Linked DNA regions of Homo sapiens. The protein of the gene in region 6 purifies or fractionates together with the protein of the main gene of each other region. This does not show direct contact. Each region holds a gene or a part of one and is shown on either strand. Other genes may lie near its edges.

Region 1 (3,500 bases), about 94 Mb from region 6:
GTAATGAGACTGCACAGCCACCTGAAGAGTGTAGCCACTTTGCAACTCCAGCAAAGTGTTGTCACACAAGAATGGCAGACTTTCCATTTGTTCCCCCAAAAAAGCTAAAAATAAATTTTATGTAAAGCCTCCCAACTTTTTTTTTTTTTTTTTTTTTTTTTTTGAGATGCAGTCTGGCTCTGTCGCCCAGGCTGGAGTGCAGTGGTGCGATCTCAGCTCACTGCAAGCTCCGCCTCCCAGGTTCATGCCATTCTCCTGCCTCAGCCTCCCAAGTAGCTGGGACTACAGGCACCCACCACCATGCCCGGCTAACTTTTTGTATTTTTAGTAGAGACAGGGTTTCACCATATTAGACAGGATGGTCTCGATCTAAAGCCTCCCAACTTTTAAATGGTGGCAATTACTTAAAATCAATTAATATCATTAAGTTTCTGGAGTCATAGTTTGAGGCAAGAAAAACTGAGCCAGTGGCTTAAACTTTTATCCAACAAGTATTTTACTGACTTGTGCCAAGCTCTGGCTTAGGTGCTGGGGACAGAGAGACGAAGAAGATGTGGCCCCTGTTCATGGGGCAGAAAGGAAGTAAGTGTGGAATAGATCATTTTGGCCCAGGGCACTAAGCCCTGGGAGGGGACCACAGAGTCTGCAGGGGACACCACCAAAGGCTCCTTCTGAAGGCAACACTTCCACCTGGCCAGCCAAAGGAGGAGAATCACAGGCACACATGCATGAAGCAGCTTAGGGTCCCGCAGGATCAAGTGTCCCTGCAGGGAGGCGCAGTGAAGGCAGAAAGTGGCGCCCACACATGAAGGACCTTGTGAGCCAGGCCCGGAAACATGCCTTTAACCAAGAGGCAAGGGGGAGACATGAAAGGATGTGACACAATCAGCCTCAACTCTGAACAGTCCCCGGGACACAAGAAGCTGGTCACGGGCTGCCTCTGGGAGCAGGACTGACAAAACACAGTGGAAGGGAGACAAGCTTTTCCCCGGGCAACTCCTTTTTAACTGTCTGCATTTAATGACCATCTCCTGGAAACCTGTTCAAAAGTAAAATTTGCGTTTTTTAAAAAAAATAGCCTGGTAGCACCAGAAAGTATAGATTTGTGGGAAGCAAGCTAATAAAGAACAATTTGTCAGCTGGTCAAGGGGAAGATAGTATAGGCCTGAACTGAGAGTAGGAAGGACAAAGAGGAGAGAACAAAACGGAGAAACTGCTGTAAGGTAAAGCTCAAGACTTGTCATGAATATAGAGAAAGAGAGGAACGTGGATGACCGCCAGCTTTCCGGATGAAGGACTGGATAGTAGAGCTACTCACAACAGAAGAGACAAGGGTCATCTCTAAGGGGGCAGAGAAGAAATGCGGGTGAGTCCCATTTGGACACAGTCAATTAAATGTACCCATGGGACATGCACGGGGGTGCTGGCAGGGTCATTTAGAAAGCTCTGGGTTGGATATTTAGAATCCAGAAGTCATGGGTGCATGAATGAGGATGAAAGAGAATGGCCAGGAACAGGGCACAGAAGGGATAGCAGGCTCAGAAACGGTCAGAAGCTCCTACCAGACACAGGAAGGGCAGAGACGGTGGTTGATGCTGGACACTAGTGCCACTGCGGAGAGCAGGAGCGACCCCTTCCAATAGAGGGAAAAGGCAGCACTTGAAGCCTGGGAGGATCAAGGCTGCCTTCCAGTGCAGCACGTTTACTTTCCAAATGTGGGAACTGGCCCGAGATGAGCCTAGTAAGGGTTACAATTAACAACCTTACATTTATATTATTTTATAGATTTATCTTTTACATACAGAGACCTTCAACATTGTACTGTGATACAAGAAAGGAGGAATGTAATGGAATTTCATCATATATGAGGATCATATGCTGAAGTCAGAAGGTGGAAATAACTTTTAACTCTTGTACTACTTAGATTGTATTACTGGTTACGCTGTACTATATTATGATAAAATTTAAAGGATATTCAACTAAACCCTTGAGAGTGATTCCTTCTGCACCTAAAGTACAGTGTGGTTGTGTAGACAGTCCCCTGCTGTCATTCTCACACACAGTGAGTTTCAGAACCACCAAGGCAGAAAAATGGAACGCACCAGCGGGAAATCTACATGCAGGTGTCTGGGCCTTCAACCATCCTGTCTTTAAGATGAGCCTCCACTCCTCAGCAGCTGAGGTGGAAAAGGTAGAGAGACCTAAAGTACTGTGCTTCCCTGCAGAATTTGCTTTACCTTGTTTTCTAATGCCTCAGCACTTGTCAGAACATGTGATGGATTCAGGAGCATCAAACAGAATAACACATGTGAAAGCAGCTAGCCCAGAAACCGGCACACAGTGTGTACTCAAGAACCATTTGTTGGACTTGAAATCAGAAGCAGATACTGTTCATTGAAAAGCAGCAGAGAAGTTGGCTGCCTGTTTTCTGGCTTTCCAAGCTGGCAATTCCTGATGCGGGCTCCATCAAACTGCACTCATCCAAACAGCCAGGTGAGCTTTACAGCTGTGGAAGACCAGAGACGATCTATAACGCAACCCCTTCGTGGTGTCTATGCTAAATGGGCGCATGGAGATGCTACATCATATCTCTATCTTGCACATAAGGAGAAAGACACATCCTTCTGAAGTGTCAGGGCATAAGTCCAGGTCTGGGATCTTCTGTTTCCCACACTGCCTTTAAGTGAGTCAACTAAGATGAATGCTGCAACCAAAAAGCAGACATTCTAGAGTGAACAGGATCCCAAGCACAGAGTTTAACATCCAGCAAGAACAAAAGAAAGAACAGGAAAAGTAATCATATAAAACATATCATAAGGAACTTCCATGTTCAAACTGAAACAGTCAAGGAGGCAAGCTCAGAAGCATTTCACTAGGCAACCACATGGCGGAAAACAAAGTCTGCCGCACACATCCCGAACAGGTCTGTGTTAAAGCCTGGAAGAATAAGATTCTCATGCACAGCTGCCACAAGATCGCCAGCTTGGCTAGAGAAGGACTGCCAATTCATTAATCCAAGCATGTAACCCAACATGTATATATTAATGAGCAGACACTATCATGAAAATCCAGGATTTGCCCTCTTAGAGCTTATAAAGGGAAAAAAGGACATAAGGACAGAGAGAAAGGAGTGGCTGTAACTATTAAAAGATAAAGTTACCAATCTGATAAGGGGCATCTACGAAAACCCTACACCTAACACACTTAATGATGGAAGACTGAATGCTTTCACCCTAAGTTCAGGAACAAGACAAGGACGTTCACATTCACAGCTTCTATTTAGCATTGTACTGGAGATCCTAGCCAAAGCAAGAGGGAAAGAAGAAGGGCATCCAGACTGGAAAAGAAGTCAGTCTTTATTTGTAAACAACATGATCCTACTTGTAAAAAGGCCTAAGAAATCCACCCCAAGAAAAACCCTACTTGAACTAATAAATGAGCCTAACGAGGTTGCAAGATACAAAGTCAATATACAGAAACCAACTATATTTCTATACATT
Region 2 (3,500 bases), on a different chromosome or scaffold from region 6:
TCACCCAGGCCTGCTTGGTCCTGGCCACTCCGTCATTTCAGCGTTTAGGAAAGCTCCCGAGGGGAGCATGAGAGCCCAGGTTCCCCAGGACACTGGTTACAATGTTGCCGCCTGACCCACTGCCACCTCCGCCCCAGGCTTTGTGGGTGACACCCAGTAGTAGGAGGACTGTTCCTGCGTCACCCCTCTGCCAGGCTGGCTCTGGAAGTGACAGGCAGCCAGGTCGTGCAGTTTCATTCCCTGGGCCCTGGTGACATCACTCCACAAACCCGTCTGTCCCAAAAGCCAGGAGCCTGAGTCACCTCCAAGCAGATGAACCTACTGCAGTTTGAGGATCATGTTTATTTTAGCCAGAGAAAAAACAATCTCGCCCCAAATAAACTTTTCTCCAGGCCTCAGTCATTCCCTAGAATGGATGGCCATGAGCCTTTCAGACCTCACCAAGAAGACAGCATCAAAGAAGGGAGACCACTGGCCCCTGAGCATCCACTCATCCAGCCACTTACGACGCGGCCCTGCCTGATGACCCCAGGGTAGGTGGCTGGTGCAGGTCTGAGCAGTTGCTCAGGGAACTCGGCAAGGAGATGACACACTCCCACTTCTCAGGCGAGCCTGGTCTACACATGCGCCCACCCCATGTCTGTCTGCTTCCTCCCGCTCTGCTGGGCCAGCCACAGCGTGTCAGGGCAGATGTGGAAGCAGCGCAAATAATGTCATGAGGACTGGGCAGCACAGAGAGGCTTGGGCAGGAGGACGGCAGCGGGTGGCTGCACAGAGGAGGTGATATTCAAGTTAGCATCGCAGATTACCAAGTTGGGCGGGGAGGGGGCGGGTAAGGGCATTGCCAACAGAGCAGCCAAGGCGTCTCAGGTTAGCCGGCTGGGTATCCCTGTCCCTTGGCCAAGCAGGCCTGGACTCCACTCAGAGGCTTTCCACTTTAAGCTGCTGGGATCCAGTGGCCAGCTGGGTTTCATTCGCGAATGACCGGTGCAGCGCTGGCTGGGAGGCTGGCTTCTGGATCAGGTCAGAGAAGGGGCCTCGTCTGCGCCTGTCCCTATTCAGAGGGTGAGCAGTTCTGCCAGGCAAGGCTCCTGCTGGCTTTGTCTGCACCTCCTGAGGCTGTCGTCCCCCAGAATATCCTCCCAACCCTGGAGAGCCTTCATAATGTGGCACCTCTGGGCTCACTCTTCCAGGGAAGGGCTGTCCCCACCTGCCTGAGTCCCCCCAACCTCTGTGCAGATCCACTTTTCTCCCCAACCGCCCCAGCACACAAGGCCTCCGCTTACAGCTAATCTAAGGGCACCGGGCAGAGCTCAACAGGGAGCTTGTTTCTCTCTTTCAGCCCAGCCTGCTCTTCTGAACACAACATAACAGCCAACACTTACACGGCATTCACTACACACCAGGCACTATGAACACCTGTAAATTTCTTCACAACCACTCCAGGAGGTGTGTAGTATTATTGCCCCCATTTTGTAGATAAGGAAACTGAGGCAGAGTGGTGAAGGGACAGAGCCAGGGGCTGAACCTGGAGCTTGCTCTTGACTGCCCTACCATTCCACACGTGGCCACAGTTGGCATCTCTCCACCTCTTAGAGGGTACAAAGATGACTCGGACCTTCCTGGGGCACACCCCAAAGCTACAGGAACAGGCCAAATGGTAAGACAGCAAGCGGCGCTCAGGAATGTGTCATGGGCATCAAAACACATCAGAGACAGGGAGGGGGAGGTCAAGGATGGGTGGCCCCTTCCCACCCCAACCTGGACCAAGAACAGCCTCTGGAATAGCTCTGCCAGGGAGGCAATATGCAGCCCAGGGGTCGGGAAGTCAGCGGCCTGCCGGGCATCACCACGAGGGCATCACCATGTGGGCTGATGGGGTGGAACCGAGCAGAGGATGTCACGGGGCGAGACAGCAGTGCGCATGCCCAGGAACAACGAGCTCAACGCCCATGCCATGCTGCGGGCAAATCACTCCTATACACGTAAATGTTGCCCTTTTCTAAAAGCCACCAGGTGATTCTAACACTTGCATTGTCCGGCACGGTAGCCGCTGGCCGGTGCGGGCTGTGAGTATTGGAAAGGTGGTGAGTCCAGACTGAGATCAGCTGTGAGTGTCCAGTGCATACCTATTTCAAAGATTTAGTAGGAGAAAAAGAATGTAAATTCTCCTATTCATAATTTTTGTGGCAATTACATGTTGAAAGGGCTAGCTTTTGGATATACTGGGTTAAATAAAATATGCTATTACAGTTAATCGCACCTGTTTCTGTTGACTTTTCTAGTAGTTACTAGACAATCTAAAAGTACACACGTGGCTTGCCTCTGGTTCCTCCTGGACAACACTGCTCTACTGTGTGCCGGGGCTGAGAAGCCCTCAGTTGTCAATAAATGTTAATCTTGACAGGATTTTGGTTTCACGGGGGATGCTAAGCATGTATGTCACCAACCTGGAAAATTGGACCTATGAACTGTTTCCACATATTGCTGCCCTAGACAGTCCCTGCCCCACAGGAACCCCTTACACCTGGGTAGTTTCATGTCTACAGTTAATGCTCACCCGCCAGACTTGGCTCACTCAGCAGTGGCCAGAGGCCTTGCAGTGTAGTAAAGGGTTTCTCTCATCCTAACCTGAGAGGAATCTTCTGGGCTTGATCTCCATCCTGTGGGCCTGCAGTGGAAACTGAGGCCCAGTGAAGCAGAAAGGTTCACAGATCAGGAAAAGGCAGGACTCACCATTAGCATTTCCAGTACTCCTAACTGAGTCCTTCTTCATGATATGCTTCAAAGATGCTTTCTTCTCTAGATGTTAAACTTTTCAGCCGAGGAAGGGAAGGGAGAAAGACGGTTGGGCCAAGTATCTGCTGAGGCCCTTCTATGCCCTAGGTGCTCTTTCATGTTTACATACTGGATGTATTAGTTCCTTATGGCTGCCATAACAAATCACACAAACTCGCAGTTCTGGAGGTCGGAAGTCTAAAACAGGTCTCACAGGACTAAAAGCAAAGTGTCAGAAAGGCTGTGTTTCCTCCTGGAGGCTCTAGGGAAGAATCCATTTCCTCGCCTTTTCCAGGCTGTGGAGGATGCCCATACTCCTTGGCTAGTGGCTCCTCCCCAGCAGCAGGCAGTGAGTCTTTCTCACATGGACTCAGTCCGACCTCCTCTCCTGCCTCCCTTGTCCACATTTAAAGACCTTTGTGATTACACTGAGCCCACCTGGTAGCCCAGGAGAATCGCCCCATCTCAAGGACCATCTCAGCTGATGAAAAACTCTAATTCCACCTGCAACGCCTTACTAAGTCATTAACGTAGTCACAGGTTCTAGCTGCCACACGGTCTCTCTCTTACACCTTACAACAGCCCTATACGATAGCTGGAACGATCTGTATGGTTTTTTTTTCAGACAAGGACATAGATTTACAAGTTAAGCAACTTGCCAGGGACACAGGCTAGAGCCTAGGTCTATCTACCTACTAGTGCCTTTATGATACCACACCCTC
Region 3 (3,500 bases), on a different chromosome or scaffold from region 6:
GGGACCCAAGATCACTGAACTTTTGCCTATTTTGAGATCATCTTTCCAATCCAGCCACTAACAGCTGAAGGATAGGCTTGCCCTGGAGCCATTGTAGTGGTTGGATGAAGATAAAAGATAAAAAACTGTGAGGGGAGGTGTCACAGAAGAAAGGGCCCATGTGGGCAGATTTTCATTCAATTCCTAGTCTTTATTACAGCAATTCTCCAGTGCTGCAACCTTAGAAAAGGATTCCTACAACACAATGTAGGTACCCATCAGCAGCAGATTGGATAAAGAAAATGTGGTACATACACACCATGGAATACTATGCAGCCATAAAAAAGGAGCAAAATCATGTCCTTTGCAGCAATATGAATGCAGCTGGAAGCCAATAACTTAAACGAATTATTGTAGAAACAGAAAAACAAATACTGTGTTCTCATTTACAGGGGGAGCTAAACCTTGGGTAAATGGGGCATAAAGATGGGAACAATAGACACTAGGGACTCCAAAAGGGGGGAGGGAGGGAGGAGGGCAAGGGCTGGAAAGCTTCCTACTGGGTACTTTGTTCACAACCTGGGTGATGGCACGATTAGGAGCTCAAACCCCAGTATCACACAGTATACCCTTGTAACAAGCTGATGGTGTAACCCCTGAATCTACAATAAAATTATTTTATTTTAAAAAATCATTATAAGGATTTTTAAAAAGAAGGATTCCTAGACAGGTGCAGCCAAACAATTTTTTTTAAATGTTGGCAGGCCGCCACCGCCAGTCACTTATGCTGCAATAGCCCATGTCCCAACATTCCCAACCTACTTCTCTCCAAAAGAGAAGCTATACTTTCAGATGGCCCTGTGCTGGGTTCTCCCTGGAAGTTTCTGGGGAAAGGGGCTTGAGTTGCCCCGACTGGACTCTTCCTGGAGTGGGAGCCGGGGCTTCTGATCAGACGTGAGTGAGGCAGGAACTCCGCGGTCTCCCAGCGCAGCCCAGAGTGCGGTCCCACGCAGGTCCCGGGTCCTGCGCGCTCGCGCCTTTGCGCTGAAGCCGTTAGGATGAGCCCTCTCCTTCCAGAGCTTTAACCGATGAAGGTGCATTGTGTTTGGCGCCCCTGAGGAGGATGCTGTCTTAGGCCTCTTCCCACTGGACGTGTGTGGTGGGCAGAGATCCCGTTCGTCGGTCGCACTTCCACCCCGCTGGGGCTCACTCAGGCCGCGGAGCTGCGAGGGAGACATCCTCGATGGACTCCCTCTACGGAGATCTCTTTTGGTACCTGGACTATAACAAGGATGGGACCTTGGACATTTTTGAGCTTCAGGAAGGCCTGGAGGATGTAGGGGCCATTCAATCTCTAGAGGAAGCGAAGGTGGGTCTCACTGGGGCTGTAATCAGAGAGACGTTGGGGCTGGGAGCCCTGGAGAGGCATTGGGCAGAGAGGGCAAAATTTACATGTTGTCAAGCTTGACCTGGGCCCACTGCAGTGTTCAGGTCGTTGACCAGCGTTACCGTTTATTAAGAATAACAACACAGCTAACACATTTCTCAAGTATTTTTCTCCGTTTTCTCCTTGGCTGTAGTAAAATCTCCAACTTCAGATTGCTCTCAAGATGTTGGCTACATACAGCCTTGTCTTAGGAGTCACCTTGTTCAATGTGCTCACCTGTCATTAGTCACCCAGAGGGGCGTCTAGGCTAAAGATGCGCCCTCCCCAGTTCAGAGAACTGGAATAATCACTCTACGTGTATTTGGGAGTGGGGTGGTGATTGGAAATTTTCTGATGTTATGTTTCGGTTTCTGTTCCTGGAAGGGGGCAGTGGAAGTGGCTTTTACTCTCGGGTTTCACTAGTGCTGAGGTTTCCTCATAATATGCCTTAATTGATAGACCCTAGTTATCAGTACCGAGCTTAGGCTAACCCTTCTCTTCCCCAGAAGGCTAACCTACAGGCTCCTTCTCAGCATGTTGTGCTTCGTACATACTCCTATTGCAGTATTTCCAAGTCATTTTTCATTTGGAATTTATTATTGTATATAATAATTACTTTATAAGTATATTTGCTCTTTGGATGTTTGACCCGGTAGACTGGGAGATCATGAGCATGTGGACTATTGAGTTTATTTTGGATAATTGGTACTTCGTGCCCAAAAAACTGTCAGTTGAGTTCTGTCATGTTGAAATTTAGTAAAACTCTTTCTATTAGCCATGTGAACTTTGGGAATATTGAAGCATCCATTCAGTCATGGGTCAGTTCTAGTTTGAGCACATTCTATATTCCAAGCCCCATACCCTGGTATCCTCATCTGTTATATCAGAGGCCTGGACTGTGTACTTTCTGTGGACCAATTCAGTCCAAAATGTTATTTCTGCAAAGCTTATCTGGATTTTTAATTCCTAGAAAAAAGCAGTGTTTCTCCTTTTAAAGTTAAGTGTTCTTGTTCAGGTGCAGTGGCTCATGCCTGTAATTCCAGCACTTTGGGAGGCCAAGGCAGGTGGATCACTTGGGGTCAGGAGTTCAAGACCAGCCTGGCCAATATGGTAAAACCCCATCTCTACTAAAAATGCAAAAATTAACCGGGTGTGGTGGTGGGTGTGTGTAGTCCCAGGAGGCTGAGGCAGGAGAATCACTTGAGCCTGGGAGGCAGAGGTTGCAGCAAGCTGAGATTGCATCACTGCACTCCAACCTGGGTGACAGAGTGAGACTCCATCTCAAAAAGAAAAAAAAAAAGTTAAGTGTTCTTCATATTTGTTTAAAGACACTCTTATATTTAGATTTGCAAGTGTAAGTTGTATTTGTTTATTTGATACAAACTAGCCTTTCATAAGAAATTCTGGGTTAGCTATCAAGTCGAATCTTTTGAAACACATTTCTTCCTTATTGAAACAAAAGGTTTGTAGAGCTGTCTTGCATTTTTGGCAAGGACGCTTTGTGTACCTAGTGGTGACTGAGGAGGGTTCACATGTCAAAACCCAAGGGAGGGGTGTCCCCAGAGAATTCTGCACCAACCACACAGAACATTCTGTTTCAGAGGAGCACCATTGTGACTTTTCCTCAAGTGGCAGTCACATCGTTAGGAGGTTTTGATGTGAGGTCTCTTCCCACACGTCTCCACCTCCCCAGTAGGAAAATTTGTTTATATAGACAAAACTCAACTGATTAAAAAAAAAAAAAAGAAATGATACTTACATTGTCGTGTTAAGATACAAAAGCAATAACTTTTTATTGTGAAAATAGTCTGTTTTTGAACAATATATTGTTTTGTTTTTTCCTGTGAAAGTTGAGAAACTAAATATACGAAGAGATAATGGTCAGACCATAAATAAAAATAGAACTTTGACTCAAAATTTACAGCAGTCTGCCCAGAAAACCAGCCCTTTATCTAAAATAAACAGACCAGGAAACCAGCCTGTTATGTCAGACTTATAGGAAGTCAGGTTGCTATCTCTAGAGACAATACACAAAGCTATGCAATAACTGCTGTAACAGCCCCAAATGGTCAGAATTTGATTAATAACCGACAGC
Region 4 (3,988 bases), on a different chromosome or scaffold from region 6:
TGTAGAGGGGGAAACGGGCTAAGAGAGGCAACTGGTCCCAGATCTGTCTGGCTTCAATTTGAATTTTTCTTTCTTTTTTTTTTTTTTTTTCCAGAAGGAGTCTCACTCCGTCACCCTGGTTAGAGTGTCCTGGCCTGATCTTGGCTCACTGCAACCTCCACCTCTTGGGTTTAAGGGATTCCCGTGCCTCAGCCTCCCCAAGTAGCTGGAATTACAGGCATGCACCACCACGCCTGGCCAATGTTTGTATTTTTAGTAGAGATGGGGTTTTACCATGTTGGCCAGGCTGGTCCCCAACTCCTGACCTCAGGTGATCCACCTGCCTCAGCCTCCCAAAGTGCTGGGGTTACAGATGTGAGCCACTGCGCCTGGCCAGATCTGTCTGACTTCAAAGCCCCAACCTCTCAGCTGTATCCTCCTTGGGACTGGGTCTGGAGCCCAGAAGACAGAGATGGCCAAGGGGTCACTGTGTCCTGAGTTACTTTGGATTCCAGACCCCCAGCGACTCACCTGTGCAAAATTTTCTCAGCCTGCTCCAGCGAGATGGAAATGCCCAGAGCTCGGAAACTCTGTTGGATCTCAGAGACATCAATGTGACCTGGGGAGGGGGCCGGAGGTGGGGAAGGATGTGCGTGTGAGGACACCTGGGGAACCCCAGGACCAAGGATCAGAACAGCTTGGAATGGAGGTGGTCTAGCAAGATCAGGGGCTCCAGAAACCTAGGAGGAGGTTTGCAGTAGGGCTGTGGGGGGACCCCTGACTCACTGGGGTCAGAGAGGTGGAACTGGGAAATACTGGGGGGGCTTCTCTGTTCTGTAAATGAATGAAGGAATCCAGGGGTAATTGTAGGGGTCTCTATGCCATGGGGGATTGAGAGGCAATATCCACAACCCAGATGCTGCTATGAGGGGATCTCTGTCCCACAGGGGACCCAGGAACAGCATAGGGTATCTTTGCCCCATAGAAAAATCTAAGGGTAATTATCGGGGTTCTGCCCCAGTAGGGAAAGGAGGTGGGATGGGCTGGCTGGGCCTCGAACCACCTAGCTAGGGGGTGAGGAGTGCTCCTGAAATAGCCTATGAGTCATCGGGGAGAAGCGGCCCTCCCCCTCTCCTCCTAGCGCTGCCAGTTCTAACCCCACTGATGTCTCTAGGGCCCCCACAGCCCTATCCCTTGGGGCCTGCAGGCAGGTCGCCCGACCTTACCATCCTGGTTCCGGTCAAGACTGTGAAACATGAGCAGCAGACGCTGTTCCCGCTCCTGCAGATAGCGGGAAAATTCCTCCAGGTCGAGCCCGCCATCTGGGTCAGCATCACCCTCAGAGGAGATACCCTGACAGAGGGAAAGGGGATAGAGGTGGCTCCAGGAACCTGCTCCTGATCTGGAGGGGACGCATGTCACCTTATGCCTTAGGAACCCAGAGCCCCCAGCGCCTTGAGGAAGGGGATAGAAGACGTCACCCCACTTCTCCCTCAGTCAGCTAACTTCTCAGCCAGATCCCTACAGCCACCACAGGTCTGTGCGGTGGGTGTGAGTGGTCTAGTTTTCCTGGTGAGCAAACTGAGGCTCTGCAAGGTCAAGTCACCAGTTCAAGGTCACAGAACCAGGAAATGGTAACCTCAGTTCTCATCTGTAAAGCCTGTCCTTCCAGCTGTCTCTTGTTTTTAGTTTTTGTTATTTTTTTAGGTATCTCATTCCTGTTGAACCCAGCTGCCTCTTAAAAAACCCTGTCCACATGGGGGACCCAGGGGTTCCCTTTGGAGGAAGCCCTGGGCGATGTGGGGCAGGAGAGAACCAAGCGGAGTGGCTGAGGCCTTGGTTTTTCCCATTTGGGAAGTGGGAGGTTGGACTGCTCTCAGGGTTGCTGTGGTTCTCTTAGAGCGATCTGGGGCTACAGGTGTGGGAAGGACCTGCAAAGTGGAGGTGGGGGCAGCGGGAGGAAAGTCTTGTTATAGGTGCATTCCCAGCTGCGGGTGACCGCAGACAGGATTGGGTCCCTGGCTGGGGCAGCCCGGGACAGTGAGCCAGGCCCGTGAACGGCCCATGAAAGGGCAGGCCAGGGAATGTAAACACAGGGATCGGGGCAGCTGCAGGCCAGGGCAGTAGGTGCCCAGAGGATGGAGGGTGTGTCTCCTGGAGGTGAGAGCAGGGCACGTCATGGGCTGTGCAGTCTGGAGGAGGGTGTGTCCCGGGCAGTGGGCAGGAAAGCGCCCCCATCTCTTCCCAGGCAGACGCCCCCTGCCCCGCAGCAGGGGGATCGGGTGTTGGCCGCGGAACTGCAGGCTTGGGGCCTCGGCGTCCCTGTCTTGAGCGATCCCGTTAGGCCAAACACGAGTGGGTAGGGGGAACGAGACAGAGACACAGGTTCTGGAGTCCAGCCACAGGTAGTCCCTGGTGGCTCCGGCCGCCCAGTTCAGGGGCTTGGGTAACCGGGAGCGGGCGGGGCCGGGAGGGGAGGAGGTCCCTGGGGGTGGGGGTACCTGTTGGGCGCCGGGGTCTGGGTTGCCCCCGCCCAGCCTGGCCAGCCCCTGGCGCAACTCGTGCACGTCCACGCGGCCATCCTTGTTACTGTCCAGCTCCTCGAACAGGCGACCCCAGCGCTGCCGCCGCTCCGCGTCGCCCGGGCTCCCCCGCATGGCGCCCGCCCGGGGGGGAGGGGAGGCCCGGCAGCGGCGGCCTCAGTGGGGGCTTCGCGGCTCCCCCTCCCCCCCCGGGACCCCGCAGGGTCAGCTCCCGCGGCCGCCGGCTCCGCAGCCTCCGCGCAGTCCGCTCGGCTCTGGCACTTGCGGGAGGTGGTGACGGCTAGCCGTCGCCGCCCGCGCCAGAACTTGCGTCTCCTCCCCCGACCTGCATTGGGGGGAGGGGACCGAGGGCGGAGCTGGGGGCGTGGGGAGGGAATGTCTGGGATGGTCTGGTATTGCACAGCCGAGGAACACCAGAGTTCCTTCTGGGAAGACGGGCTAGGGAGCTCAGTGGTCTCAGGTCTGGTTTCAGAGTTCCGCCTCTGCGTGCCTCAGTTTACCCTTTCCCCCTTTGCCCAAGGGGGCAAGGTAGAGCGCTGTCGGGGATTGGGTTTCATAATCCCCTTCCACTTGACCTCCCCGCCACACCCACTAATCTTCAGGAACTCAAGTTCTCGCTTTTCCCAGACGCACGCAAGAACCGTGCACCATCTCGCTCGCTCTCTGCCCGCCCGCGCCTTACACCTTCCCCGCTCGGCCGCAGAAACAGAAGATCCAGGAGCGATGCTCTCCCACTGTCCCTTCTTCCCGCCCGCGCGCTTCCTTTCTCGGTTCCCACTCTGACTGGGAAACAGAAAATCAACGCGCGGCGCGGCTGCAAAGTCGGTTTCCTATTGGTCAGCGCCTCCTGGGCTGAGCCCGCCCGCCCCGCCTCTTCTCCCACCTAGGCGGGGCCTCCCCGCAGACCCCCGACTGCCTCCAGCCCGCAGTCCCACCGCCTGCCAGGAGATCTTAAAGGGGCCGCGGCCGCAATCAGACGCTGAGCGGCGTGGGGAGGGGGTGGCTCAGTGACCCGGGCGCGGGGTTGAGGATCCCAGTGGTCGAGCGCTGGAGGCAGGGCCCCAGCCTGTCGCACTCGCTGCACCTGCGGAATGTCCCTACTGCTAGTTTCGGGCGCAGTTTCTCGATCCACCATTAGGGGGAAGGGAGCCCAGACCACTTGACAGCGAATACTCGATAACAAATCTCACTTTGATTCAGTGCTTTGCACATGCCAGGGCTTTTACTCACCTCTCGAGTCGTCTTTGCCAAAACCCTATAAGGTAGGTGGTACTGGCGTTCGCACTTTGCAGATAAGGAAGCGGAGGTTAAGTCATTCTCCCCAGTCCTGATGACCACTAAGGGGCAAAACAGGGTTTAAAGAGATCTGGGATCCTTAACCATCACTCTATACCCTAGAAAGAATTAATTATCTTTTTTTTTTTTTTTTTTTTGAAACGGAGTTTCGCTGTTGTTGCTCAGGCTGG
Region 5 (3,500 bases), on a different chromosome or scaffold from region 6:
TGAAGGCAAAAATCTAATGGAAGTAGATTTAATTGAATGACAATTAATGATGGTAAATTTAGATAATGCTTAAGATGCCTTCTATCCAGAGATGTAAAACGATATAAATTTAGAACTCAGGTAAATTTAGAAAATAATCTAATTCCAGAAATTCATTTGTTACTGAATTCTGTTTCTGAAATGAATAACTCAAAAGAAAACAAAATCCATTAGTAAAAATCCTTGCTGAATGATTCTAAACATATTAGCAATTTACATCACATTCTGACTCAGAAATTTCTGATTCTTTTGTGATAATACATAGTGGTCATTCGCTACCCCATGTCAATGTTTTTGTTATTAAAGAAGAAGTTTAGAAGCACAGGACATTGAAAGGAAAGGCAGAAGACTGGGAATAAGAGATCTAAAGAGGATATGTCACATGTGAGGGGCAGCGGGAAGAGAAAGGCAGGTGTTAAGATGGCTTTTTGGCTCAAGGGCAGCATCGCCCCTAGAAGTAAAGGAAAAGCAGCCCTCACAGGTAAAAAGACAAAAAAACAGAAAGTTTAAAATATTTTTATTTATTTCGTAAATATTTTAAGATACTTACCTTGCTTGAACCTCCACTTCCTATCTGCTTTAATATGGAATAAATTCTTCCTTTAACCGAAATGCATTCATTTGCTGAAGAAGATGCTAAAACCTAAATAAGTAAAATATATAAATAAAAGTTAATCAATATACCTAAGAAACTAGCTTACATTTGGTACAGTCAACTGCTCCCCATTTTGAAATTATCTTAAATCTTAATTAGAAATGTTACAATATTTTTAAAAGGACTTGCTCTACTTAATCAAAGAAAAAAAACCTTAAAAAATAATGTAGACAAACTTCCAAGGTCTCCCCCTTTAACTAGTTTTGACTTAAAAAGAAAATTTAAGGAGGAAAAAACCACTTAATATGCAATCTGCAAACTTATAAGCTTAAAAATATATATAAAAATAAAATATAAAATTATATTTTTCATTTTTCTTTTCTATTCTTTTTCCTTATACCTCTTTACTTACATATGTACATATACACACACATAATTATAGCTGCATTCTTTTCTTTTTTTTTTTTTTTGAGACAGCATCTCACTCTGCCTCCCAGACTGGACTGCAGTGGCATGATCTCGGCTCACTGCACCCTCTGCCTCCCAGGATCAAGCGATTCTTCTCCTCAGCCTCCCGAGTAGCTGGGATTACAGGCATGCCACTACCATCCGGCTATATCTGTATTCTTCTTTCTCATTTAGCGTTATATTATAAAGGAAGCAATGTGCTAAGGTGCTAAGAGCTCCAAAGTCAATGAGACAAATGCAAATTTCAGCAATGTCCCTGATATGGTTTGGATCTGTCAAATTTCATGTCAAATTGTAATTCCCAATGTTGGAGGCGGGGCCTGGTGAGAGGTGACTGAATCATGGGGGTAGATTTCCTCCTCAGTGCTTCTCTGAGAGTTCTCAAGAGATCTGGTCATTTAAAAGTATGTGGCATCTGCCCCCAACTCTCTCTCTCCCTCCCACTCCAGCCATGTGACATTTGCTCCCTTTCACCTTCTGCCATGATTGAAAGTTTCCTGAGGCCTCCCCAGAAGCCAACCAGATTGCCAGCATCATGCCTACTGTACAGCCTGTGGAACCATTAGCCAATTAAACCTCTTTTCTTTATAGCAGTGTAAGAACTCATTAATACAGCCCCCAACTTTGTCCTGAGTGATGTTCAACAAGTTACTTAATTTTTCAGAACCTCAGCGTCTTCCCCAGCAAACTTTCAGTTGATGTACTATACAACCAGCCCCATCATTCCTTCCCTTATATTGGAGGATCTCTCTGTGTACCTATAAATGCTTTGAACAGATGGAGTGCTGAGAGGACTTATTCTGAGCTGATAAAGAAGGTGAAACAAAAAGACCTCCTGATTAGCTGATTAACCAAGTTAAACAAGGTCTGAATAAACCTCAATTTAACTAAGGCCTGCTTTAGGTTCCAAATGGTAGAATCTCTCATGTAATCTCCTATTTAAATAAAAAGATAAGTATTCTAATTTTTTCACCTCTAGGATTGAGATACATTGTCTATATATATTTCCTGTAACAAAGTATTGGGCTTCTAAACATGTATGTGTTGTAATTTCATCAAGGTTTCCCCACTCCTCCTTTTGTGCCTTCTCTGTCTTCTTCCTTTCATATTTAAAACTGTGAACATTGCCAAGGGAAGAAAGCAGTTCAATGTCCTTTCTCCACGGCTGCTGACAGTTTTTAGAATAAAGTAATTCTTATTTCTGACTCAACACTAATGTGAACTCTGGTTTCCTCCACAGGACTTCCCGCATCCCCCTTAGTATGCCCTACTCACTGTGGTTAGAGTTTCCAAAATGCAAATTGGATCATTTCACTTCCCTGCTTCAACCTCTTCCAAAGCTTCCCACCCTCTTAGGGTAAAACTTAAGGGCCCAGCAAACCTTGGGCCTCACTCCTTCCCCTTCCTGACCTCTAGCCACACTGTGGCCTCGTTTCAGTTCTCTTCTGACACTGGCCTCTTCTAGAAGGCTCCACCAAGCCCCTTCACTTGTCATCTGTGACTCGTCTTCTGGATTGCAACTCAAACAGGGCCTGACACTAGTAATAGCTAAATAAATGTGTTTTGAATCAATGCATGAACAAACTGGATCATTTTTGTTTTTCCTTTGTAATTTATTATATTGTTTCAATCCTTAAAACACTATCACCTCTTTCCAGTTAGTATCTACTGTCAGCTCATTATTTTGTCCATTATTCTTTCAAACTGTGCAAATTATACATAATGCAAAATTTACCACTTTAACCATTTTTAGGTACAATTCAGTGGCATTAAGTACATTCAGTATGTGATGATGAAAAAGTTCTGGTGATGGATGGTGGTGCAAATACCACTGAAACTCTATACCCATTAAACAGTAACTCCCCATTCTTCCTCCCTTCCCTGACAACCACTGTTCTTATTCTGTCAGCTAATTTTTTTATCAGTTGATTTTTATAGTTAATTACTCATGGGTTTTTTATTGTTTTATTTAAATAACAATTGCTACTAACATTTCTGATTTACTAAGTGTCATGCTCTGTATTAGGAGTTACGTCTATATTAACTAATTTAATCTTCACAACCATCCTAGGAGGTAGTTAGCTTTACTAATTTTATAGATAATGAAATGGGCACCGAAAATTTAGGTAACTTGCAAAAGATCACACAGACTGTAAGTAGTGAGGCTAAGATTCATGCCCAGTGTCTCCAAGGCCCATGTTTTCTACCAGTATTAAGCTGCCTCTAGGACAGTTACTAGAAACCAACTTTTGCCTCATCAGCAAAAAATCTTTCCTCTTAGTTTAGTTATTAGTATAATACATTCTAGCAGTACCTCATATTGCTATTCTGATATTTTTGAAAATTTACATTTCCAAATGAATTGTATACTAACAAACAAAATGAAGCTGCTCACTAG
Region 6 (3,500 bases):
ATATCTTAGTCTCAGGAATGGGATTGCAAAGGTTTGAAACAGACACACTCCTGTATCCCCAGATAAAGAATCAATGGGTCCATATTTCATGACATCCAAGAAACCATCAATTATAAGCAGTATCCTGATTCAGATATTAAAACATGAACAAAAACTACCCATTATAATCAATAAAACACAGTACGTTATTTAAGGTGATCATTAACATTTGGAATTTTTTTAAAGTATTTTTAGTTTAAAAGGCTCATACTACTGATGACAGTTTCAACCAGTAGAACTTTGGGGAAGATAACTTCAGACTATGTCACAAAACCCTTAGATTTATATACCCTTTAGCCCAACAATTCTACCTCAAGGAACTTTTCCTCAAGAAAAGCACTGGACAAATGTGGAAAGACAGACAAAGAAAAAGATTGCTACAGCACTGGTTATGCTAGTAAACCCTAGAAACACATTAGTTTTAAAATAGAAAACTGGGGAAACCAGGTATGGTACTTCTTTACGACAGAAAACGGTAATAATTCAAAAGGTCCAAGACCCTGAAAAATGTTCACGGCATAGTAAAAGCAAACAGCATATCACAGATCAGTTAGAAAAAAATCATGAGAAAATATATGCAAAGAAAAAAGTATAAAAGGAGTTTTAGAAAGAACTGAGAAAATGGAAAGAGAAAATTCGAATTAAACAAAAAATCTTCTGGCCGCAACGGCTCATGCCTGCAATCCCAGTGTTTTTGGAGGCCTAAGGAGGAGAACTGCTTGAGGCCAGGAGCTCAAGGCTAGCCTAGGCAACACAGTGAGACCCCCGTTTCTAAACAAAAAATTAGCTGAGAATTGGCAGTGCATGTCTGTAATCCCAGTTCCTCAGGAGACTGTGGCGGGAGGACTGTTCGAGCCCAGGAGTTCCAGGTTGCAGTGAGCTATGATTGTGCCACTGCACTCTCCAGCCTGGGTGACACAGTGAGACTCTGTCTCAAAAAAACTCCTTAGGTAAGATCTTGGTTGGTGTGCAGGGCAAGTGCAGGTGGTTCTGCAGCCAGAAACTATCAAACCTTCTAGCTCCCTGGACCTGACCTTCCACAGCTCCCTCTCCTCACGTACTTGTCAGGGCGGCGCAGGGGGCAGCTATGTTGATCAGGAGTGAATTCAAAGTTGGTCTACCATGAACTGGAAGATGCTTGAATACTCATCCCTGCTGCTATAATATCTTGGCAGAGAAACCATTAATTCTCTGTCTGGCATTTGCTGGAGTTAAAATATACCAAAGGAAAAGGCTGGAAGCAAAACAGCAAAACTGGAAGCTGAAGAGAGGCATCAATGAGAGAAGGAGATAACTGAAGAGTAATCCAGGGTATTTTGCTAAGCATTTCATGCACAGCTGTGTTGTTTGGGTCCTGACAACTCTATGAGATACTTTCGAATTGAAAGAATGGCTCACACTGTACATGGTGAAGAGCAGAACCAGAAACTGAACACAGGTCAAATGCATTCAACCACAGTGAGCTGTACTGCCTTCCTGAATTCACAATGTAAAAGTCAGTCTGAGTGGACTGCAGCTGAGAAGAGAAGACAATTATCCAAAAATGTGTCCGAGGATACACTCCCAACCTATACTTTTAAAAGAATGTGATTTTTTTTTTTTTTTTTTTTGAGACAGGGTCTCACAATGTTACCCAGGTTGGAATGCAGTGGCGCAATCCCAGCTCACTGCAACCTCGACCTCCTGGGGTCAAATGATCCTTCTGCCTCAGCCTCCCGAGTAGCTGAGACTACAGATGCCCAGCACCATGCTGGGCTAATTTTTGTATTTTCAGTAGAGATGGGTTTTCGCCATGTTGGCTGGGCTGGTCTCAAACTCCTGGGCTCAGGCAATCTGCTGGCCTCAGCCTCCCAAAGTGCTGGGACTGCAGGTGTGAACCACCACGCCTGACCAACAATGTATAAATGTTTATTTTTATAAACTTTTAAGAGAGCTATCATTTTATTTTGGTTAGGTGAGGTGGCTCACACCTGTAATCCCAGCACTTTGGGAGGCTGAGACAGGTGGATCACTTGAGGTCAGGAATTCGAGACCAGCCCAGCCAACATGGCGAAACCCTGTCTCTATGAAAAATACAAAAATTAGGTAGGCTTGGTGGTGCACGCCTATAATCCCAGCTACTTGGGAGGCTAAGGCACCAGAATTGCCTGAACCCAGGAGGCAGAGGTTGCAGTGAGCTGGGATTGCACTACTGCAATTCCAGCCTGAGTGACATTATGAGACCCACTGCACTCCAGCCTGGGCAACTGAACCAGACTCTGTCTCAAAAAAAAAAAAAAATTGTATTTTGTTTACTAAAATACCTTTGTAAAAATGGGGAGGAGTCTCCTGAAACTTACGTGAATTTTCCTTATTTGAGAGAACACACCAGGTGCCCAGTACACTGGGAGAAAACACACTCATATGAAGGCACATCATTGTGATATTTTAGATCTCTGGGAAAAAGAAGGTTCAACACATTTCCAGAAGTCAGGGGGTAGAGGGAGATAAATAATTGAAATAAAAATTTTTACAGCCAGGTGCAGTGGCCCATGCCTATAATCCCAGAACTTTGGGAGGCCGAGGTGGGCAGATCACTTGAGTTCAGGAGTTCGAGACCAGCCTGAGCAACATGGCGAAACCCTGTCTCTACAAAAAATACAAAAAAATCATCCACCAGGCATGGTGGCCCATGCCTGTGGTCACAGCTGGCTTGGGAGGCTGAGGTGGGAGGATCACTTGAGCCCAGGAGGGGTAGGTTGCACTGTGATCATACCACTACACTCCAGCCTGATGACAGAGTAAGACACTGTCTCAAACAAAACAAAACAAAATTAAATCAGAATAGCTAAAGGACAATAAAAGAATACATTTTAAATTCTGAAGAAAAACATTTTCAGTCTAACACTCTCTACCTAGTTGAACTAGGAATTGTGTATAGAATCAAGCTATTCTGAAAGGTGCAAATTTCCATTTCCACATGCATGCTTTCTTAGAAAACTACAAGAGGCTGTGTGTCCCCCCAGTGGGAGCAAAGCAAGACAGAGGACACTGGACATGGGAAGCAGAGGATCCAACCCAGGAAAGAAAGGAAGAGAATCTTCAGAGTGATGGTGCAGGAGAGCCCAGTCGGCCAGCTGTGTGCAGGCCACCAGGCCAGAGGCTCCCAGAGAGGCCAGTCATGAAGACGATTCTGACAGAATACCTGATGTCTCTCAGCTTCTTGATAGGAGACTTAAACAACTAGGGTTAAATTAGTGACTAAATATCTGGAGAAATTATGAAATGAGAAAAGAGAATTACTAACACCAGGGCAAACAAGAAATTGGGCAGGAAAGGAAAAGCATTCATAGTCTACGCACTGGGTCAGTTGTAAGTGGTATTTACAGTGTCATAGGTCAACACTGGCTGCTGATCTAACCCAAATCACCTGAAGACTATACAGATGCCCCTTGACTTAACAATGAGGTTACATCCTGATA
Region 7 (3,500 bases), on a different chromosome or scaffold from region 6:
ACCCAGGAGGCTGAGGCGGGTGGATCACTTGAGCCCAGGAGTTCAAGGCCAGCCTAGGCAACATAGTGAGACCCTGTCTCTATGTTCTAAAAAAGACCTAGTTACAGTATAATCACATGAACACTTATGCTATCACTTCTTTCTAAACCCAAGTTTAGATAAGACATATTTAATGGATGTTAAGCAAAGAAAATAGAAAATAAGTTTAATTTTCGAAGAGAAAAATAGACTTACTTCTTCTGCTGTTTGAGAAGGTTCTTCAGGTAAATCAGGAATCTAAAGAAAAGTATTGGTAAGAGGAATGTAAACATGTTCAACAAGCAAAAGTGTCAATGAGAAGAGTTCCTCTCAATACAGAGTTTAGACACACATCTAAGCTTACTTATATCTTTTCTTCATACATCTATAAAGAGTTTATAATGAAAATAGTTCAATTAATAAACATTTTTGGGCAAGTGTGCTAAAAATTAATCATAAAAATAGGATTTGAGATAATAGCTCCCAATCTATACATACTTAAAGGATTTTGCTTCTATTATGTTCCAAAATATTACTAATATATAAAAATGCACTATGTAAAAAAGCAAGCCAGATGCAGTGGCTCATGTCCGTAATCCCAGCAACTCAGGAGGCTGAGGCAGGAAGATCACTTGAGCTCAGAAGTTCAAGGCCAACCATTGCAACAAAGCAAGACCCTGTCACTTTAAAAAAAAAAAAAAATATATATATATATATATATATATGATTGTGTATGCATATACACATACATACATATAAAAACAGGATAAATGTTAACATGTATCAGCTGGGCGCAGTGGCTCATGCCTGTAATCCCGACACACTGGGAGGCCGAGGCAGGTGGATCACTTGAGGTCAAGAGTTCATGATCAGCGTGGCTCACATGGTGAAACCCCGTCTCTACAAAAATACAAAAATTATCAGGCATGATGGCGGGTGCCCATAATCCCAGCTACTCGGGAGGCTGAGGCAGGAAAATCGCTTGGAACCCATGAAGCAGAGGTTGCAGTGAGCTGAGGTTGTGCCACTGCATTCTGGCCTGGGTGACAGAGCAAGCCTCCATCTTAAAAAAAAAAAAAAAGAAAAGAAAATTCAGTAAGACCCCAAAATTATTTTGCTTCAAACATATACATATTTTATTTTATTTTATTTTATTTTATTTTATTTTATTTTATTTATTTATTTTTCTGAGACGGAGTCTCACTCTGTCGCCCAGGCTGGAGTGCAGTGGCGCGATCTTGGCTCACTGCAAGCTCTGCCTCCTGGGTTCAGGCCATTCTCCTGTCTCAGCCTCCCAAGTAGCTAGGACTACAGGCGCCTGCCACCATGCCCCGCTAATTTTTTGTATTTTTTAGTAGAGATAGGGTTTCCCCGTGTTAGCCAAGATGGTCTCGACTTCCTGACCTTGTGATCCGCCTGCCTCAGCCTCCCAAAGTCCTGGGATTACAGGCGTGAGCCACCACACCCGGCCCATATACACATTTTAACATGAATATGAACTTTTTGTCACTCACACTCCTAGGTGACTGCCAGAAACCATTCACTTTGGTTGCTTTTGTCATTTACTCATGTTTCCCTATTTCCATTAATCTATTAAGAATCCAGATATTGGGCTGGGTGTGGTGTCTCACGCCTGTAATCCCAGAACTTTCGGGGGCTGAGGCAGGCAGATCACCTGAGGTCAGGAGTTTGAGACCAGCCTGGCCAACATGGTGATACCCCATCTCTACTAAAAATACAAAAATGAGCTAGGCGTGGTGGCGCACACCTGTAATCCTGCTACTCAGGAGGTTGAGGCATGAGAATCTCTTGAACCCAGGAGGCAGAGATTGCAGTGAGCCATGACTGTGCCACTGCACTCCAGCCTGGGTGACAGAGTGAGGCTCTGTCTCAAAAAAATAAAAATAAAATAATCCAGATATTTAGACCATTTTCTTTCATTAAGACATTTGTGGCCGGGCGTGGTGGCTCACGCCTGTAATCCCAGCACTTTGGGAGGCCGAGGAGGGCAGATCATGAGGTCAGGAGATCGAGACCATCCTGGCCAACACGATGGAACCCTGTCTCTACTAAAAATACAAAAAATTAGCCGGGCGTGGTGGCGGGCACCTGTAGTCCCAGCTACCCGGGAGGCTGAGGCAGGAGAATGGCGTGAAGCCGGGAGGAGGAGCTTGCAGTGAGCCGAGATCACGCCACTGCACTCCAGCCTGGGTGACAAAGCGAGACTCCGTCTCAAAAAAAAAAAAAAAAACAAAAAAAACAAACAAAAAAAACATTTGTTACCAATGACTTCATCTCCAGGAACTCTTTATTAATACCATAGAGTATATTTTATAACATTTAATCTAACCTTACCTGCATTTGCTAAATAACTCATTTGTTTTCCTTTGGTATCAAAAGCATATGTGACTGTCAAGTAAAATCTGCCATCAGCATAAGACAGTGTCATTAACAAAACACAAACATGAATTTTTAATCAGTCCGTTTAGTTCATATCGATCTTTTTCAAAGGTCAGTGATAGTTCAATAATCTGATTCCCCTGCTCAATCTCCACTATGGGACCAGGAAATCTCAGATTGAGAAGCAATATCTTAGAAACTATTTTCAGGGAATAGACAGCCTCCCAGCTTTCCCTAAGGGCCAGTAAAAACAGATTTCTTATTTCTAATCTTTTCCAGCTCCAATTGGAATTAACTTAGTTAAGGATTGAAGATTTGAATGAACAACATGTATAATAAACCTGGGCACTAATCCAAAGTGACTGATTGCTAATCTATTCCCTAGAAGGGCCAGTAAGGAAAATTATACACTCATGTTAATAACAGCTATTAGCCACTCACAAGATAGGGCTTGATAATGTTCTTAAGTTAATAGGAATGCTTCCCTTCGTAAGCATTATATTTTTCATTTTTACATAATCAAATTCCTTAAAAAGAATTGAGTATTTTCGGCTGGGCGCAGTGGCTCACGCCTGTAATCCCAGCACTTTGGGAGGCCAAGGCGGGCGGATCACGTGGTCAGGAGATTGAGACCATCCTGGCTAACATGGTGAAACCCCGTCTCTACTAAAAATACAAAAAAATTAGCTGGGTGGGGTGGTGGGCGCCTGTAGTCCCAGCTACTCGGGAGGCTGAGGCAGGAGAATGGTGAGAATGGTGTGAACCCAGGAGGCAGAGCCTGCAGTGAGCTGAGATTTCACCACTGTATTCCAGTCTGGGCGACAGAGTGAGACTCTGTCTCAAAAAAACAAAGAAAAAATATCAATTCTTTTTTTTTTTTTTTTTTGAGACGGAGTCTCACTCTGTCGCGCAGGCTGGAGTGCAGTGGCGCAATCTAGGCTCACTGCAACCTCCACCCCGCTGGGTTCAAGAGATTCTCCTGCTTCAGCCTCCTGAGTAGCTGGGATTACAGGCGCCTGCCACTGCACCTGGCTAATTTTTGTATTTTTAGTAGAGATGGGGTTTTACCATCTTAGCCAGGC

Evidence for each region.
Region 1: the proteins of CMTM8 (region 6) and CHCHD6 purify together in Homo sapiens (affinity purification with mass spectrometry; one large-scale study listed by BioGRID and IntAct). This does not show direct contact.
Region 2: the proteins of CMTM8 (region 6) and HIP1R purify together in Homo sapiens (affinity purification with mass spectrometry; one large-scale study listed by BioGRID and IntAct). This does not show direct contact.
Region 3: the proteins of CMTM8 (region 6) and SLC25A24 purify together in Homo sapiens (affinity purification with mass spectrometry; one large-scale study listed by BioGRID and IntAct). This does not show direct contact.
Region 4: the proteins of CMTM8 (region 6) and SLC25A23 purify together in Homo sapiens (affinity purification with mass spectrometry; one large-scale study listed by BioGRID and IntAct). This does not show direct contact.
Region 5: the proteins of CMTM8 (region 6) and TTK purify together in Homo sapiens (affinity purification with mass spectrometry; one large-scale study listed by BioGRID and IntAct). This does not show direct contact.
Region 7: the proteins of CMTM8 (region 6) and UBXN8 purify together in Homo sapiens (affinity purification with mass spectrometry; one large-scale study listed by BioGRID and IntAct). This does not show direct contact.

Annotation. Positions count from the first base shown.
Region 1 is NC_000003.12:126,710,740-126,714,239, reverse strand, and holds part of CHCHD6 (MICOS complex subunit MIC25), read right to left. Parts: intron 1-3,500. UniProt on the Homo sapiens protein: Component of the MICOS complex, a large protein complex of the mitochondrial inner membrane that plays crucial roles in the maintenance of crista junctions, inner membrane architecture, and formation of contact sites to the outer membrane.
Region 2 is NC_000012.12:122,838,457-122,841,956, reverse strand, and holds part of HIP1R (huntingtin-interacting protein 1-related protein), read right to left. Parts: intron 1-3,500. UniProt on the Homo sapiens protein: Component of clathrin-coated pits and vesicles, that may link the endocytic machinery to the actin cytoskeleton. Binds 3-phosphoinositides (via ENTH domain).
Region 3 is NC_000001.11:108,190,344-108,193,843, reverse strand, and holds part of SLC25A24 (mitochondrial adenyl nucleotide antiporter SLC25A24), read left to right. Parts: intron 1-1,008; exon of another isoform or gene 1,009-1,222; coding exon of another isoform or gene 1,223-1,348; intron 1,349-3,500. UniProt on the Homo sapiens protein: Electroneutral antiporter that mediates the transport of adenyl nucleotides through the inner mitochondrial membrane. Originally identified as an ATP-magnesium/inorganic phosphate antiporter, it also acts as a broad specificity adenyl nucleotide antiporter.
Region 4 is NC_000019.10:6,456,993-6,460,980, forward strand, and holds the start of SLC25A23 (mitochondrial adenyl nucleotide antiporter SLC25A23), read right to left. Parts: upstream 2,801-3,988; 5' UTR 2,637-2,800; coding exon 2,481-2,636; intron 1,333-2,480; coding exon 1,206-1,332; intron 599-1,205; coding exon 511-598; intron 1-510. UniProt on the Homo sapiens protein: Electroneutral antiporter that mediates the transport of adenine nucleotides through the inner mitochondrial membrane. Originally identified as an ATP-magnesium/inorganic phosphate antiporter, it also acts as a broad specificity adenyl nucleotide antiporter.
Region 5 is NC_000006.12:80,028,649-80,032,148, reverse strand, and holds part of TTK (dual specificity protein kinase TTK), read right to left. Parts: intron 683-3,500; coding exon 590-682; intron 1-589.
Region 6 is NC_000003.12:32,241,680-32,245,179, reverse strand, and holds part of CMTM8 (CKLF-like MARVEL transmembrane domain-containing protein 8), read right to left. Parts: intron 1-3,500.
Region 7 is NC_000008.11:30,757,664-30,761,163, reverse strand, and holds part of UBXN8 (UBX domain-containing protein 8), read right to left. Parts: intron 277-3,500; coding exon 235-276; intron 1-234. UniProt on the Homo sapiens protein: Involved in endoplasmic reticulum-associated degradation (ERAD) for misfolded lumenal proteins, possibly by tethering VCP to the endoplasmic reticulum membrane. May play a role in reproduction.